2 separate regions of the Homo sapiens genome follow, and region 2 is linked to region 1. A link means that fine-mapping ties the variant in region 1 to the expression of a gene that starts in the linked region. Tissue or cell type: whole blood. Region 1 holds a variant in brackets; the other region holds the start of a gene. All regions are shown on one strand. Distances are between the middles of the regions.

Region 1 (8,104 bases):
TTCCTCCATGGGTCTGACTTGAACTCTCTCCACACAAACCTTCCAAGAAGCATCCTCCCCAAGGAGTATGGGGGCACGGCTGGGGAGCTGGACACTGCCACCTGGAACGCGGTACTGCTGGCTTCAGAAGACGATTTTGTGAAAGAGTTCTGCCAACCTGTTCCTGCCTGTGACAGCATCCTGGGCCAGACGCTGCTGCCCGAGGGCCTGACCTCAGATGCACAGTGTGACGACTCCTTGCGAGCTGTGAAGTCACAGCTGTACTCCTGCTACTAGCCCGTCCCCCAGGGTCACCATCTTTAATTCTTTTCCTTCTTTTCTTTGGAGAGGCACAAGGAGAATTTAAGGGTCCATGGATTCAGTCTTGCTCCTTGTAATTAAACTGCAGGATGGAGGAACAGCCTGAGATATGAGCATGAGCCCATTTTGGGGTAAGCCTTTGGTTACTTTAATTACTCCATGGAAGACATGGAAAATGTCCCCACTGATTCTTAAACATTTGGAATCCCAGTCTGCAACTATTAATCTGGAGGCTATATCTATTTTGTTTTGCTTTTTGGTTGGGGGGTGGTGATCTGGTTCTTACACATCTTGGAAGCAAGAACAATCAGGACCAAAGTCACTTTGATCCCACTTTTCCAGGAGAAAAACCACCTGTTTGGCCAGTGAGAACTACTTGTATGAAATAATTTGGCCAAACCTTCAGTGTGACCAAATGTGAGACTGGGAGTTTGTGTTTTTCACAGGAACCCTAAGTATAGACCTCTGCTGCTCATCAGGAAACTTACTGGAGATGAAGGCCCCAGCTGTTGTCACCGGGTTTGGAAAGCACCTTAACTGAATCATGTAAGCATCAGGACATAAGCAGCACTTTGTGGTCAAATGTGGAAGCCGGAGACTTCAAAGCACCTCTGGGACCCACTGGTTGAAGTTTGCAATAGAAACTTAAGTTTTCCCAAATCCATAAAGCCTTAGCCCTGGTTCTCAATAGAATCAGGGACCTAGCAGGAAATGATTTTACTCAACCTAAAATGCTGGATCCCAGGCCCGTGTAGCTATAAGAATTCTGGCCTGGATCCCAGGTGTACAACTATGGACAAGATATGGGCCTCTACTTTCTCCTCTATAAAATGAGGCTGGATGAAATGTCAGCTAGGGCCATTTTGGCTGCTGAGGCTCTGGGATTTGGTTTAGTTACTGAATGTTAGATTTTCTGCCTAGAAAGATAACTATCTAGATACAAGTGGTTGGATCCTGTTTTTGTTTGTGGTACATGTGTCTTTCCAAGAGAGATGTGTCACCAATTAGCCCTGCCTTTAAAGAAACTATTATGTGTATTCCTGGGACTCACTGACACCAATTTTCTTTTTATAGTGATGGTTCAATTTTGAAAAGATGGCTTTTGTGAGGCCAGGTTAAGGTGACCAGGATCTTGTATGATGAATTCCTTCCATCCCTGAGACTCTGGTACTATATTGTAAACCTGGCTACAGTAGTTAATTACTTGAGATTCTTTAATTTTGGTCTCTGAGCTGGGCGTGGTGGTTCATGCCTGTAATCCCAGCACTTTGGGAGGCCAAGGTGTGCGGATCACAAGGTCAGGAGTTCGAGACCCGCCTGGCCAAGATGGTGAAACCCCATCTCTACTAAAAATACAAAAATTAGCTGGGCGTGGTGGCGGGCTCCTGTAGTCCCAGCTACTCGGGAGGCTGAGGCAGAAGAATCACGTGAACCCAGGAGGCAGAAGTGGCAGTGAGCCAAGATCGCACCACTGCACTCCAGCCTGGGCGACAGAGCAAGACTCTGCCTCAAAAAAAAAAAAAAAAAAAAAAAATTTTTTTTTTTTTGGTCTCTGGAAATGAACACAAGGGCAGGTTATTCCTGGGTCACTTCTGGGCCCCCCTGCCCTCCCAGCCCCACTTGAGTTTCTCTCTCTGGTGTGGGTGAACCAGTCAGCCTGAATGTTCTGCATTTCAGCACTTTAGAACCTCCCTGTGAAGATTTTAGCCTTAGCCCAAACATCAAATTAGACGGTTCACATGATGGTTTTTGACCTATTTCCTTTCTAATGTATTCCACATGATCATGGTGTTAAATAGTGAAAAGTACTGTGTTGTGTGTGCACCTTCTCCGTGCATTTATTAGACTAACCAGTCAAGCAGACAGCTCAGTTAGGGAGAAAACAATACTCTGAAATTTGAAGGCCAATCTGTTGTTACTAAGCTGTTTATCTCTATTGCCTTTTTAAATGTCTGGATAAGTTGTTGGTGGAAATTAAGTTACTTAACCTCATTAATACCAATTCTAGAGAAAGTTCTTTTCACCATGGATAGTAACCCTGGATCCTCTACGGTACTGGCTGAGCTGGAAGTGCCAAAAAGCACTCCTGGCTGCTTCTGGTTCCATCTGATGATGATGTGACACACACTGCTGAAAAGGCCCAAGCAGGGCAAGTGGGATGGCTGAAGGAGGGAAGGAGGGGGTTCAGAACCCACTGGCCTGGATGGGAGAACTGGGTGGAGGCTTCCCCAAGAGGGAAGACAGATAAACAAAACAAAACAAAAACTGGGTAAAGAGGAATGAATCACTCAGCCCTGATGTTTCAATTCTACACTGCATTCCTGGCCAGTCGCATTTGTTTTAATGCAGGCATGGCCACAGCTCTCCTAGAGAATTATCTCAAAGACCAGAAGGGACCTGGAGAGGCCTATTTCTTAGGTTTTTCCAGTTGGACAAGGAAGGAGTGGTTTCACTCAGCTTCTAGAAGGAGTTGGAGCCTAAGTTTATCTGCCTCCGGGAGCTGCTTGCTTTGTTTTGGCTCCGAAGAGGTATCAGATAGTTTTGACACCTCAGGAAACTTGAACCAAGCTGTGAAACCAAGACCTCCCTGCGTGAAAATCAAGGTGGTCTCCTTGTGGCTTCACCAGGATGTTTGTGTCAGGCTGTCTCAGCAGGGTGGGGAATGACCAGCCAGGGAGCACAGTGAGCCTTACTCAGCACTGGGGAGCGCACTGGTGAGGCAAACCCATGAACCTCAAGAACTGGGAGTATGTTCCTTCAGGGAGAAGTTCTGGCCCATTGCACAAACACTTGGAAATTAACTTTTCCCTAAATTCAAGATAGTGTGGTGTCGGAAGGAAATGGGACAGTAAATTAGGAGACGCGGGCTCCACCTTTACCTTACTACGTGGCCTTTGATGAGCTGGCTTAACATCCCTGAGTGATTCCATGATAGAGATCTATACTCCAAACTTTATTCCTGGTATCTAGTTGGCTTCACTGCCACAGACACTGTACTCTCTCTTTTTAGAAGTTTTTTTCCTTTTTTTTCCCCCTCAATTGGCTTATTTAGTAAATTTAGGTCTGAATGAATTGGTACCTAAAAGCTTCCAAATCTATACATTTCAGAATATGGGAATTTTCTTCCTCTTCTTCCCCCATATCCCAACATGGAATTCTGGAAAACTGTGCCTCTTCCCCTGTTCTGCCTTCATGGGGGAGAGACTGGATGAAATCTACAAAAACAGCCAAAAGTGCCACCCTGGCTTCATGTCTTGAATTTCTAACTTGCTCTTGGCAAAGGTCGCTTTATTTTTTAATTTTTTTCCTTGCATTTTCTTTTTTATTCTATTGCTGCTGCAAAAATTAAGGCAAAAGTAGCTTTCGATCTTTCATATTTCATCCTGGTTTCACAAGGAGTCACTTATCTTAGGAGGTCTGTAAGTCAGGTTACAAGGCCGGGAGCGGTGGCTCACACCTGTAATCCCAACACTTTGAGCGGCTGAGGTGGGTGTATCACCTGAAGTCCGGAGTTTGAGACCAGCCTGGCCAACATGGTGAAACCCCGTCTCTACTAAAAATACAAAAAATTGGCTGGGCATGGTGGTGGGTGCCTGTAATCCCAGCTACTTGGGAAGCTGAAGCAGGAGAATCACTTAAACCCAGGTGGCGGAGGTTGCAGTGAGCCGACATCGCGCCATTGCACTCCAGCCTGGGTGACGAGTGAAACTCCATCTCAAAAATAAAAATTGAAAAATCAGGTTACAAAACACCATTTTTCCCGAAATAAGACAATAAGAGGCTTTTCTCTGAA[T/C]TCCTTTATATTGAGCCTTTCAGAATTCTCCCTGGGTGGGCAATTTCTTTAAATAGTATTTGACCCTCAGATCAATCCTGGGAATTTTTTTCATTTGGGTAGCAAAAGCTAGAGTATTGCTGTGGCGATTATAATACTTTTAAAAAGTTTTACCATTTTAAAGTTGCCAACATTTAATTAAGGTTTTCCTTTGAAGCCTCCTTTAATTTAGGGAGTAAAATGTTAGCTAAACCAATTATATACTATATACTATACACTGTATCTCCTGTGGCCATGAGAGGTGTGGCTATACCGAACAGAAACATGCCTACTGTTCAGGAAAGATGTCAGTTCTGGTAACACCTCTCTGTATTGGGATCTGTTAATTTTGTAAATCTAAATTCTTCTGCTCTTGGCCAGGTGCAGTAGTTCATGCCCTGTAATCCTAGAACTTTGGGAGGCTGAAGGGGGGGCGGATCATTTGAGGTCAGGAGTTTGAGACCAGCCTGGCCAACATGGTGAAACCCCATCTCTACTAAAAAGTACAAAAATTAGCTGGGTGTGGTGGTGCGTGCCTGTAATCCCAACTACTTGGGAGGCTGAGGCAGGAGAATCGCTTGAACCTGGGAGGCAGCGGTTGCAGTAAGCCAAGACTATGCCACTGCACTCCCGCCTGGGTGACAAAGCAATATTCTGTGTCAAATAAATAAATTCATTCTTCTGCTCTCCTGACTTAGAGAAATGGTTTGCTTAAAATGCTAGTAACAAACATCACAGTCAACAGGAGCTTGCTTCATGCGAAGGATCAATGTGATTTGTGGATGGAGATGATAGTGATGAAATTCCTGTTTCATGGGGCTGTTTTTCTTTTCATCTCACTGGGCAGCAGGTTTAGTGAGGCAGTGAGATGCTGCTGCTGTGGATTCTTGTAGCTATGCCTCGGCTTCTTGGCATATCAGGTAGGAACCTGTTACAAGTGAAATACTTGAAACCTCTCTGACCAAGAGCCTCTGATGGAGTGGGAGGTGAGCTAATTCTCTGACCAGCTTGGGGCACTGTTTCAGCCACTGGTCACATTCCTTGCTTCAAACTGAAATTCAGTTTGGCTTTGAGTATAGGGATACATGGTGGATTCATGTACTTCAGTGTTTGTTTTGACCAAAGTTTATTTTTCTAGTGCATTTTCTAAGTCAAAGTGGTGAAAATATGTAATAATTTTAGTATGCATGACTCAGTCTGAAACAATAAAAATCTCTGAAAAATGTGCATGGGGTTCTTTTGTGATGATGACAGTTTGGATAAAGGTTCCAAGGTTCATTATTCACAGCCCGGGTAGACCACCTCCTCTGCAGGTGAGGGAGGGAGGGGCACTGTGATAGGACAGTGCATTCTGTAGATGCGCTGGCTGCCTCTGAAGATCATACACAATTAGACTGCTGCAGTATGGAGAGGAGAATGCAGCTAGCTACACAGAGCAGTAGAGGTGATATGCAAATTTTTACATTCTTGAGGCCCAGCTATACTTCTTGGACTGGCCTTGAGTCTTTCCAGTGATAGCCAGCGATTTCCTCAATGTGCGCATGTGGGCTGGGCACACATGTGTTAAGGACACTCATAAATAATGTATTTTAACCTTCAGCTACCCTTAATGAAGCTGCATTACTGTTCCTGTTGGCAAAATGTAGCTTGCCCAGTGACACACAACTAGCCAAATACTAAGGATGGGATTCAAACCCAGGAAGTATGACAAGCCCACTGTTTTCTCCTGATGGCTGGAGACAAATAACGAGTCCCCAGATAGAAGAGAGAGAGAAGGCAGGACTCTTTCATAGAGTAAGAAAGAACCAGAAATTGACTTTTTAACTGGCTTCTTGAAAATACAAGCAGTGGTTGTTAACCTCTCTGAAACCCAAGTTGTAACAACATTTTATTCCAGAAGTAAGCCCAGACTCCTTGAGGGGTAACTGGAGCACGGCTTGCCCAACTATGGTCCCAGGCCTGCTAAGCTGTTTCTATGTCCCCTGTTTATTTGGTACTCTGTGCCCCAGAGTAGACAAAAACTAGGTCCCCATGGTAGATCTGGTGACTTGATGAGTCAGTTGAGAAATACTCTAACACAGGAGGTACACTTTTGATGATGCAACAGGTTAAGTACTTATATTGCAGCATAACCACCCCTTCAGGTCAGCCTTTCCTGAGGAAATTGTGGAACTTAAGTTCAGTCTGTTTCTCACATATAGAAAAATGAAGCTAACTGTTAAAATCCTTTTCTCTCACAGCAGTCTTATGAGGCCCTTTTCCATGAGTCAGTATTTTCTTGATGCCCCCTGCCCCCTCCTTACACAGTACTGGTTTGGTACCCATACACTCAATGGCAATAAAGTTTCACATTATCGCATTTAAAGGGTAAGTAATAAGACCCTTTAGGGTACCACTCTTCTGGGGAAAACGTTTTTAACCTAATATTCATGCTTTTTCCTGAGTAGGTGCCAGCCACTAGGGATAGCTGACCTAGTAAAAGACATGAGTCACTTGCCTTCAGGTGACTACTAACTTGTCTTTGTCAGTGATGGGTAGAGGAGCAAACACTCTGTGCCTGAGAGTAGACAAAAACTAGGTTCCCATGGTAGATCTGGTGAGTTGGTGATGAGTCATTAGTGAGCCAGATGACTCCCCTACATGTCTCTAATAAATCCTGTCTCTTATATTCTTATGGCCCAAGAGACACTGAGGTCTAATTGAAAAAAGAACTCTTAAGCCAAGCCCTGGGTTTCTCTGTTTCACCTCTTACTGAGTAACCATAGGCAAGTCACGAACTTCTCTAAGCCTCAAACTGATACGTAAAAGGAAGGAGGGAGGGAAATAATCACCACCTTACAGGCATGTGGATACTGTCTGTTTAATGCTTGGTACACCTACCCATCTATGTGGTTTCTATTATTCTTCTTCACCTGAGAACATAGGCATGGTGTGGCTTGAGTCATCCAGCAGTAATTAGGACATCACTGAGTTGGGTGCCTAGGTAACAGGACGGACAGACCAACACAACAGGAGTAAAGAGATGAACAGCAGCTTCCATTAATAAGCATAAGCCTACTATCTGTTATCAATCTGCACAGATCAAATGCACAACTCATTATGTGAATACTCACTTTAGCCTGAATGTGTAAAAACAGCCAGGTGCAGTGGCTCCCGCCTGTAATCCCAACACTTTGGGAGGCTGAGGCAGGTGGATCACCTGAGGCCAGGAGTTCGGGACCAGCCTGGCCAACATGGTGAAATCCCATCTCTACTAAAAACACAAAAATTAGCCAGGTGTGGTGGCGCGCACCTATAGTCCCAGCTACTCAGGAGACTGAGGCAGGAGAATTGCTTGAACATGGGAGGTGGAGGTTGCAGTGAGCCAAGATGGCACCACTGCACTCCAGCCTGGGCAACAGAGCAAAACTCTGTCTAAAAAAAGAAAAAAGAACCAGTTACAGATTTCTTTGTTCCTTCTCCATTCCTCACTTGGCTAGCCAAAAAGAAAAAGAACAAAACCTCTATACTGAGAACCAGGTCCATGGCTACTCTTTGGCAGGCAGTTTCTTTGATTACCAAGAGAAAGTTTTACTTCCCAACCAGATAACCCGCAAGACCAACCTAGAAAATAAAGGAGTCCAGCATGGACCTAGAAGCTTTCTCCCGGCTTTAACGAGGTAAAAGTGGCAGCCACTGCTATTGCCTTTGATGAGTTCCTAGAGCATGTCCCTGATCTGAAAGCCAGGGCCCCAACCCGCATTCCCCAAGGCTAGGCAAGCCCTTTCATAGTGATGAAACATAAAGGTACTCATCTGGAATGAAAGGCCACCCTGAGATCTGATGACTCAAAATACTCCCCTGCTTTAAATGATGATCCTGGCCTTATTCAGAATGCTGTCTTACTCATGCTTGTATATAATTCAGCATTCACATGTATAATTCACTTGAGTCTTGATTAGACTACTGGTTTTCCTACTAAGAGGCAGACTTCACTACTTCTTAAGGTAGGAC
Region 2 (8,104 bases), 90 kb after region 1:
AGTATCTCATAATATGTACAAAATGCTGCTATATTAGACACAGATCTTTTCCTTAAAAAGTTAGGATTCTGGCAGAGAAAAAAGACCTGCCCCCAACTAAATATGTGTCATCAGAGAAAAGGGTATGTTTCTTAAGAGAGAAACAGAGCATACTAAGGAAATTCAGAGGAAGGAGAGACCCCTTCTAAACTGGGGGTAAAAGGTGGAATTAAACAGCCAAAGTTTCCTTCATCCTCAAATGGAGCTGATGCTGCTGTCTGTGAAAAACAGCCAAGTTTCCTGAAGGGAAGCCCTTTAAGAGGTGGTAGTGCAAGGGGGTTGTGGATTCAGGACTGGCACCACATGGTCCCTAGTTAGAGTGCAGGCTCTGCCCCTTGCTCCCGTGAGCCTTTGAGCAGGTTGGTCGGCTCACCATGCATCTGTTGCTACAGCTGTAAGATGTGAATATTAATAATGTCTCCTGCACCCGATTATTGTGAGGATGACATGAAGTGGTGTTCATAGAGTGCTCAGTGCACAGCTTGGCCCCAGCCCACATAAGTGTGTCCAGTATTGTCAGTTATAAGAAGAAATGAATGTGCCAGTGTTGCTATGGTTCTGTCTTCCGGGATTCTGTCACAGACGTAGAATTATTCCGTTCACAAGGGAAGTGATACAGAGTACATGTTGTTGAAGAAAATGATGTTGTTTTTATGAATGGGCTCCTTACTATTATTTTTGTTCAAGTAACAAAACATGATTCAAAGCACCCATCTTCAAGAGCCCAGCCTCATTTCCTGACACCTACTCAGTCTTCTGGAATAAAGGCTCAGCCAAACAATAGCCCTGACCTCCAGTCCCTCCAAACTGAGTGTTGCTGCTGAGAACAGGCCTTACAGCTCTGGGTGGGCTTTTGTTCATTACTCATCGTGACATTCTGGAGAAATACAGGACCCTTTTGACTTCCCGACCAATCTCTGACTTTCTTTCATTGTCACATCACCATTAGGGCAAAGGATGATGAAATGGTCAGAATTAGACAAGAAGTATTCAAATATTTTTCAATGTATAGTATGTGCCAGGCACATAACCCACACAAGAACCTTGGAGAGTAAGGCTGTTATTCTTCTCATTTTACACTGGGAAACCAAAGCACAGCAAGAAGGTCTAGGGACCAGAAGGAAGCCCACATCTCTCTGAGCTGTGAACGGCTGCTCTCTGTGGGTTACCAGGCTGGTGTTTTTTTGTTTTGTTTTGTTTTTTGTTTTTTGTTTTTTTTTTAAAGACAGAGTCTCACTGTCGCCCAAGCTGGAGTGCAGTGGTGCAATCTCGGCTCACTGCAACCTCCATCTCCTGGGTTCAAGCAATTCTTCTGTCTCAGCCTCCCAAGTAGCTGGGACTACAGGAACACGCCACCACGCCTGACTAATTTTTTTTGTATTTTAGTAGAGATGGAGTTTCACCGTGTTGCCCAAGCTGGTCTCAAACTCCTGAGCTCAGGCAATCCACCCACCTCGGCCTCCCAAAGTGCTAGGATTACAGGTGTGAGCCACCGCGCCCGGCCAGGCTGGTGTGGTTTTTATTCCACAGCAGTCCTACGTCACATTGTCACATTGTTGAAAAGCCTTCAGATTGACAAACTCCCTCCTAATATAGCCTGTTTTCTTGGATGTTTTCTGATAAGCATCTGTGTTTTCTGAGAACTAATAAAAATTCTTGTTAAACCACAAATTACCACAGCCTCTTCCTTACCTATAGAGAGCCGCTTTCCCAGTAAAGCTCCGGTCCTACCTTCCCATCACCATCAAAGTGGCATTGAAACAGATCAGATCTGCTCCTTTTGAGGGAGTTAGTTGAAGCCCAGTCTTGCTTCAGGCCACACAGGATTTGGGTAGCAAAGCAAGGAAAGCAGCCTCTCTGACCTAGTGGCCTGAGTGTTTCCTTTCCCAGGCTGGCTGCGGCAACCACTTTGAGAAATGGCATTGGCATTGGCATGTGTGTGGCATGTGTGCTGACCTAGTTAGGAGTTGAGGCTTCATTTCTAATTCTGTCCCTTTCGTTTTGAGCTGTGTGACCTTGGGCATGTCACCTAACTTCTCTGTATATGTCTTCTTATCCAGGAAGGAGAGATTAATAATGTAGCCTCATAGCACTTATCTGATTCTCCTAAGGATGTTATGAGAATCAAATGAGATTATGTACAACGAGAGCAAACATTTATTCAATACTTAGTATGTACCAAATACTTTCAGTTTCCTTACATGTGTTTTTTAATTCTCACAATCCTAAAACAGAGGCACTAGTATCCCACTTGACAGTTAAAAAAACTGAAGTTCAGAGAAATTAAGTCAGACAGGACTCAGATCCACATCTGTGGCTCCCAAATGATGTTCCTAACCACTATGCATGTCACTCGCTCCCCATTGTACACGAAAGTAGAGAGATGTTCTTTGTCTTTACCATCAAGCACTCTCCAAATGCAAGAAATGATCTCTCGTAACCACTGCTGTTCCATGTTGGTCCCTAAGGACACTTATAGCCTGTTACTTGTTTGTCTTATCTTGTAGTTTATGCTGCTGCTTTTCATGTCCCTAAGGACTTGTTCAGTGAATTCTTTTGGTTTTACTCCCAGAGAATCTGTTCATCTCCTTCATAAAGGGGGTTAAAGGTGCCCAGCTGAGCCTGGCATCTTGGGCAGTGGCCTCTGACTTCTCCAGGGTTCTTCCTTCCCTCAAGCATGTAGTTGGGTAGCTTGTAGTAAAATGCTCTATAATGCATTTGTTTATAAGTTCCCCAGTCACTGATTTTTACTCATTGAATCTCAGAAGTGGAAAGCACCAAAGCCAGCATTTTGTTGATAGGGAAACTGAGGTCCAGAGAGGGATGTGACTTGCTTGAGGTCATTCATTCAGTTGAAGGCCTGACCAAGACTGGAACCCAGTTTCCCAGGGGACACACCAGTGCTGTTTCCAAGCCTTCCCCGGGGGCACACATCACCTCCCCTACATGAAGGACAAACTCATGTACTGTGCCCAGCATGTACCTAGGAGACCTGGGAGAAATGAAACAACTTGGAAAATTGGGCAGGAAGAAAGAGATGGGTGTGGGGTGGGGTGAAGATCTCCACCCTAACTAGTATATTATATACCAAAGAAAGGAATTAAACACACAGGAAAGCAGACAACCCACTAAGAAGCAAAGGAATTTACCCAGGAACCCTGGCTCAGTGAGTGGATAGGAAGCCTTTTGTCACTAAAGCTGCAGGGTTGAAAATTGAAGGAAGGATATTAGGCAAGCGTGGTGGCCTGGGATGCAGTTACAGCCCCCTGGCTCATTGTCCAAAGGAAATGGATCTCTCCTGTGGACAGAGAGGTGGAAACTGAGTGAGTGAGTTGTGTGGTTGACATCATCAGGCTGAGCATTGGATTACAACAAATGGGGACTTACTTGGCCCGAGACATGGGAAACACCCACTAAAACCTCAAAGTGCTTTTCATTTAGGAGACACGGGGAAGAGACAGAGAGGAGGGTAAAGTGAGAATCCTGCCCGCACCACAGGTCTGGACTGCTAACCTTGAATCCTGGTTTCTTAAATTCTGCCTCCGCTTCTGACTGAGGACCACTGGATTTTGAGGAAACTTTGGTCTTGTAAGTAGAACTTTACTCTCCTCCCCTGCCCAACACCCCCAGGGAGAAGCAGAGCTTGGAGGCAGAGCTCTCTGGAGAGCTTGCTTTCCAGCCTGTTGGCCACAAAATGTCTATTTTTATATAATGATATATGTGAGCTTGCTCTGAAAATTATGGCCTTGTCTGAAACTGCCTAAGGCTAGTCGGAGCCTCCAGTCTCACAAATGGGCTCCATTCAGATGCTGTTTCATTTTTACTCAAAGAACTTTGACAGAGTATTCAGAGCTTTAAAAGCAGCTCCTTGCTCCAAATATAGGTGAAGAAATAAATCTTCCCTAAGAAATTCGTGTTTGTAAAACCCTTTCTTTTTTTCTGATTACAAAGGTGGTATAATAATTTTTAAACATTCTAGAAAGAAAAGTCTCCGAAAGTAGTGAAAATTCCCTATTATCTTCCCCCTCAGGAACATGGTTGTTGTGTTAAATTTCAGTTACAGATATGGTCAGACTCCATGAATTTACCACATATAAACCCAGTGCTGCAGCAGCTGTGTGGAAAACTCCAAGATGGAAAGGGGTTGGAAATCTTTAACCTTGGGTTTGCGATCTTTTTATTGCTTCCTTTTAAAAATTTGCTGTTTATGCCTGGAATATAAACAGGACATGTAAGCCTTTAGGCATTTTATTTGTTGGTATCTGTTTTCAGGGTTTGAAACTAAGCAAGCTACTCTGTAGAGAGGGAAAGAGGGGGCCCTTGCTGTACCCAGGTCCCTTACTTGGTGGGTCCCTGAACTGAGGAGGATTCCTAGGTGGCTTGAGATGGCTTGCAGTGTGCTAACAGGGGAGGTGTCCCCTCTTAGCAGGTTAAGTATATTTGAAAAGTTACAGCTAACGGGAAGATTTCAGCTTCAACAAAAAGCTACCATATATTAGAAGGGTCACCCAAGGAAACTGTCACCTTGGGCAAGTGTTTCACACTCTCTGGGTCTTGTTTCTTTATTTGTACCTAATGAGGGGACAAAACTAGATGATCTCTGTATTTCCAAATTCAGTATGAAATGAACTGTCCATATTTCTTTTCCCTTTGTATTGGGCCCTTATGGCTTTAGGAGCAAAGGACCCTAGGTTTTCAGTTTCCCAGAGTAGCTAAAAACGGGTGCCTGTAGGACAGTTAAAAGAAGACATAAAACAGGCAACATTAAGTTACTTCTGAGTTTTTATGGGTCTTTTTCAGATTAGGTGTTCTTGAAGAAAGAGAAAGAAAAAGTCTCAGTGGTAACTGTATGTGCACACGCATACACTAGCACATACACTTGGGGAGAGAGGAAAGAAGGAATTGGCATTATTGAGTATCTCTTAAGCACTAGGCCCTATGTTATGCTCAACCCTTTACAGAGCACTAGATGGTCAGTATTATTCCCTAACCCCATTGACTGAGGACAACCATCTACTTATATGTTTTCATATTATCCTGAACTAAACTGTATTTACATAATTACTGGCATAACTTCAATTCCCCATGTCTCCACTAGACCATCTGCACCTTCTCTGCGTGTCTGTCTAGCCCATCACTATGCCCCACTGCCTAGTAGAAAGCCTGGCACATAGGTACAAAGGAGACACAACTTAATTTAAACTTAAAGCCCGCCATCCTAGTTCCTCATTTGGCAAGAAAGAGGGAGAAGAAGGGGGAAAATCCCTCTATTTGCCCCTCTTTCATCATTTAACATAGAGCCACCCTCTCCTGCCACAAGGGAAGGATAGCCACAGCCAGAGTGCAAAAAAAAAAAAAAAAAAGCAAAAGACGTCAGATCTTGAATTTTGAGTTTCCAAGGTGCCGGGTCTTGACAAATTAAGGTTTTTGCTTTGTTTTGTTTTGTTTTTGTTTGTTTGTTTTGTTTTCTTTAAGGGCATCAGAGACCCTAATCCTCAGGAAGTTGTGGTATTTAGAAACTATTTGTTTGAATTAAGGTCCTAGTTAATAAGAGGGTTCTCAAAGGCCCTTGGCACTTCTTTTTTTTTTTTTTTGAGACGGAGTCTCACTCTGTCTCCCAGGCTGGAGTGCAATGGTGCAGTCTTGGCTCACTGCAGCTTCCACCTCCCGTTTTTGTTCAAGGGATTCTCCTGCCTCAGCCCCTCGAATAGCTGGGATTACAGGCGCCTGCCACCACGCCCAGCTAATTTTTGTATTTTTAGTAGAGATGGGGTCTCTTGGCACTTCTAAAGCTGCAGTCTTCCCCAGCATTTCATCCCATGAAGGTGGACTGTTGCTGCCATGGACCCACCCATGGGCATGGGCAGTGGGAAGGCCAGGGCATCCTCTGCTTCATCCCAGCCCCGCTGGGATCTTGAGATTTGGGGTAATCAAAAAAGGCATCCTTTTTCCTAAGGTGGTGGTGAGGAGGTGATGTTCTGGAAGGAAGGTACCTAGACTTTGTGGTCCCTGCCAGGAAGTGGAGAGTGGAAATGTGGAATGCCTCACACTCCTCAACTAGGTAGGCCTTCATGTACCAGATGAGGGTGGCTTTCAGTTCTTGTTTTGTGTGTCAAAGTTGCTCCTGTTATCAGTGTGTGTTTGCTGATCTCTCCCACCTCAGTCACTCCCGGCAGTGAGTTTAGGGCATCTTGGGAGTGGAGGTAGGTTGTGGAAAAGATGTGTCCAGAGATCTCATTTGGCTTTGGTATCTTCCTGAAATAAATGTCACACACAGGGCTGGGCATCTTGCATATGCTGACTTCTCTTAATCTTCACAGCAATGATGTGAGGCAGAGATCATCTCCATTTTACACCTAAGAAAGGCACAGAGAGGTGCAGTGGATTGCCCAGAGTCTCACAGCTGGCAGGGGCTAGAGCTTGAGTTCCCAATGAGAACTGGTTGTCCCCGAAGCCCTTGAATATTTCACCATACTGCAGTGCCTTTTTCATATCACCTCCCTGGATCTCAGTTGCTCCATCTGTTAAATGATGACAAGTGAACTCTAGTCAGAAGTCAGAGTGGTGTTTTGTTTTTAATTTGAATGCCTTTAGGCAGGTGTGTTCTCCAGTTCATTACCATTTGCGCATTCCCCTGTGCCCTCTAGTCTCCTGCCTGGCCCCTGGCCCCTGTGGGAATTTGCAGCCCTGCATCTGGTTGGTGTCTACCGTTTCTTTCGATTTAGACAATCTAGAGGGCAGTGAGAAATTGGAAAGGGGTAGCAGGTAAGAGCTCTCGAGTTCAGTGAGAAATTGGAAAGGAATAGCAGGTAAGAGCTCTAGAGTTCAGTGACAAATTGGAAAGAGATAGCAGGTGAGAGCTCTTGAGTTCAGTGAGAAATTGGAAAGGGACAGCAGGTGAGAGCTCTCGAGTTCAGTGAGAAATTGGAAGGGGATAGCAGGTAAGAGCTCTGCTTTCACCGCCTCCTAGCTGGGAGATCCTGGACTGATCACCTCACTTTATAGAACCTACTTCTCTTTCTGTCAAGTGGGGGGTCACAGTCATACTGACCTCAAAGGGGTGCCATGCGGATGAAATGAGATAGGGCTCATAAAGCACTTAGTTAGTACAAAAATACATGCTTAGGATTAGCTGCTCTCAATTTCCAGAAAGAGAATGTCAGCCAATGTACACAGGCATCTGCCCCCTCAGACATAGGATGGCATTTGCATGAGGAACCAGAAGTTATCTTTGAACTCATCATTTTGAAACCCCTGTGATGAACCCTGGAGCTGCCATGTTGGCTCTTCAAACCAAGCCTCAGCATTATTTCCTGTCACCCAGTCAAGTGATGCTGAACCTCAAATCAGCCAGCCAGTGCTGAGGCCAAAAGCAGAAGTGGGTGCTATTCTCTTGGGACCAGAGGACCCTAGCCCAGCCACTTAAGGAAGAAGCTGGTAACAGGTGCTGGCTGTGACAGACAAGAAGCTGAACTGGCCCAATTAACTCTGCCAAATGCTTTCACGAGGGGCCAGAAGCAATTCCTAAGTGGAGACTGAGGTGGAAAATCTAAAGTTCTGGGAAACAGGTTATTAATCATGACCCTAGGCTGAGCTCACTACCTCCTGGAAATCCTTCAGAAATGTCTTAGGAAAACTTGGAGTACTGCTCCTTCAAAGAGTGGTTTCTTTGGAAGTTGCCGTGGGCTCCTATGCTGACTGATTATGAATTGCAGATTAGAACACATAATGTATCCGCTCTTACTGGAGGAAGCTGCATTTCCAAAAAGAAGTCTCTTTAATGTTTCAAGAAATTACAGGCTTTAGCTTGACTCTTCAGAACTGAATAATGGCCCTTCATGGCACCGAAGAAAGTATTTGGTGTATTCTTACTATGTCCCAGGAACCTAGGTCAGTTACTGTTTTAGTACTTTATCAGTGTAGTCTTTAACATTCCATAAATGTACATTGAGGACCTGTTAGTACTAAGCACTGAACTAGAGGACCAGGGTAAAGACACTGCCTCTGGTCTTGTGGAATTCTCTGTGCAACAAGGGAAGATAGACAGAGGAGTGAATAATTTTAA

The links. PIP is the estimated chance that this variant, and not a neighbour inherited with it, causes the effect.
Region 2: PKIG starts here. The variant in region 1 is fine-mapped to the expression of PKIG in whole blood (INTERVAL, PIP above 0.99).

The regions. Positions count from the first base shown.
Region 1 is chr20:44,489,266-44,497,369 of GRCh38, forward strand. TTPAL (alpha tocopherol transfer protein like) reads left to right here. Exons shown (of 5, transcript NM_001039199.3): 5 at 1-5,338. The coding sequence ends at 276. It also overlaps a transcript of SERINC3 not described here. Among named protein-coding and RNA genes, the nearest start is that of TTPAL, 17 kb to the left of the region's middle. RefSeq lists enhancers at 730-839, 6,923-8,104. The variant T/C (reference allele first, on the strand shown) is at 4,094.
Region 2 is chr20:44,579,105-44,587,208 of GRCh38, forward strand. It overlaps PKIG (cAMP-dependent protein kinase inhibitor gamma), which reads left to right and starts at 3,475. Exons shown (of 4, transcript NM_001281445.2): 1 at 3,475-3,627. RefSeq lists an enhancer at 416-555.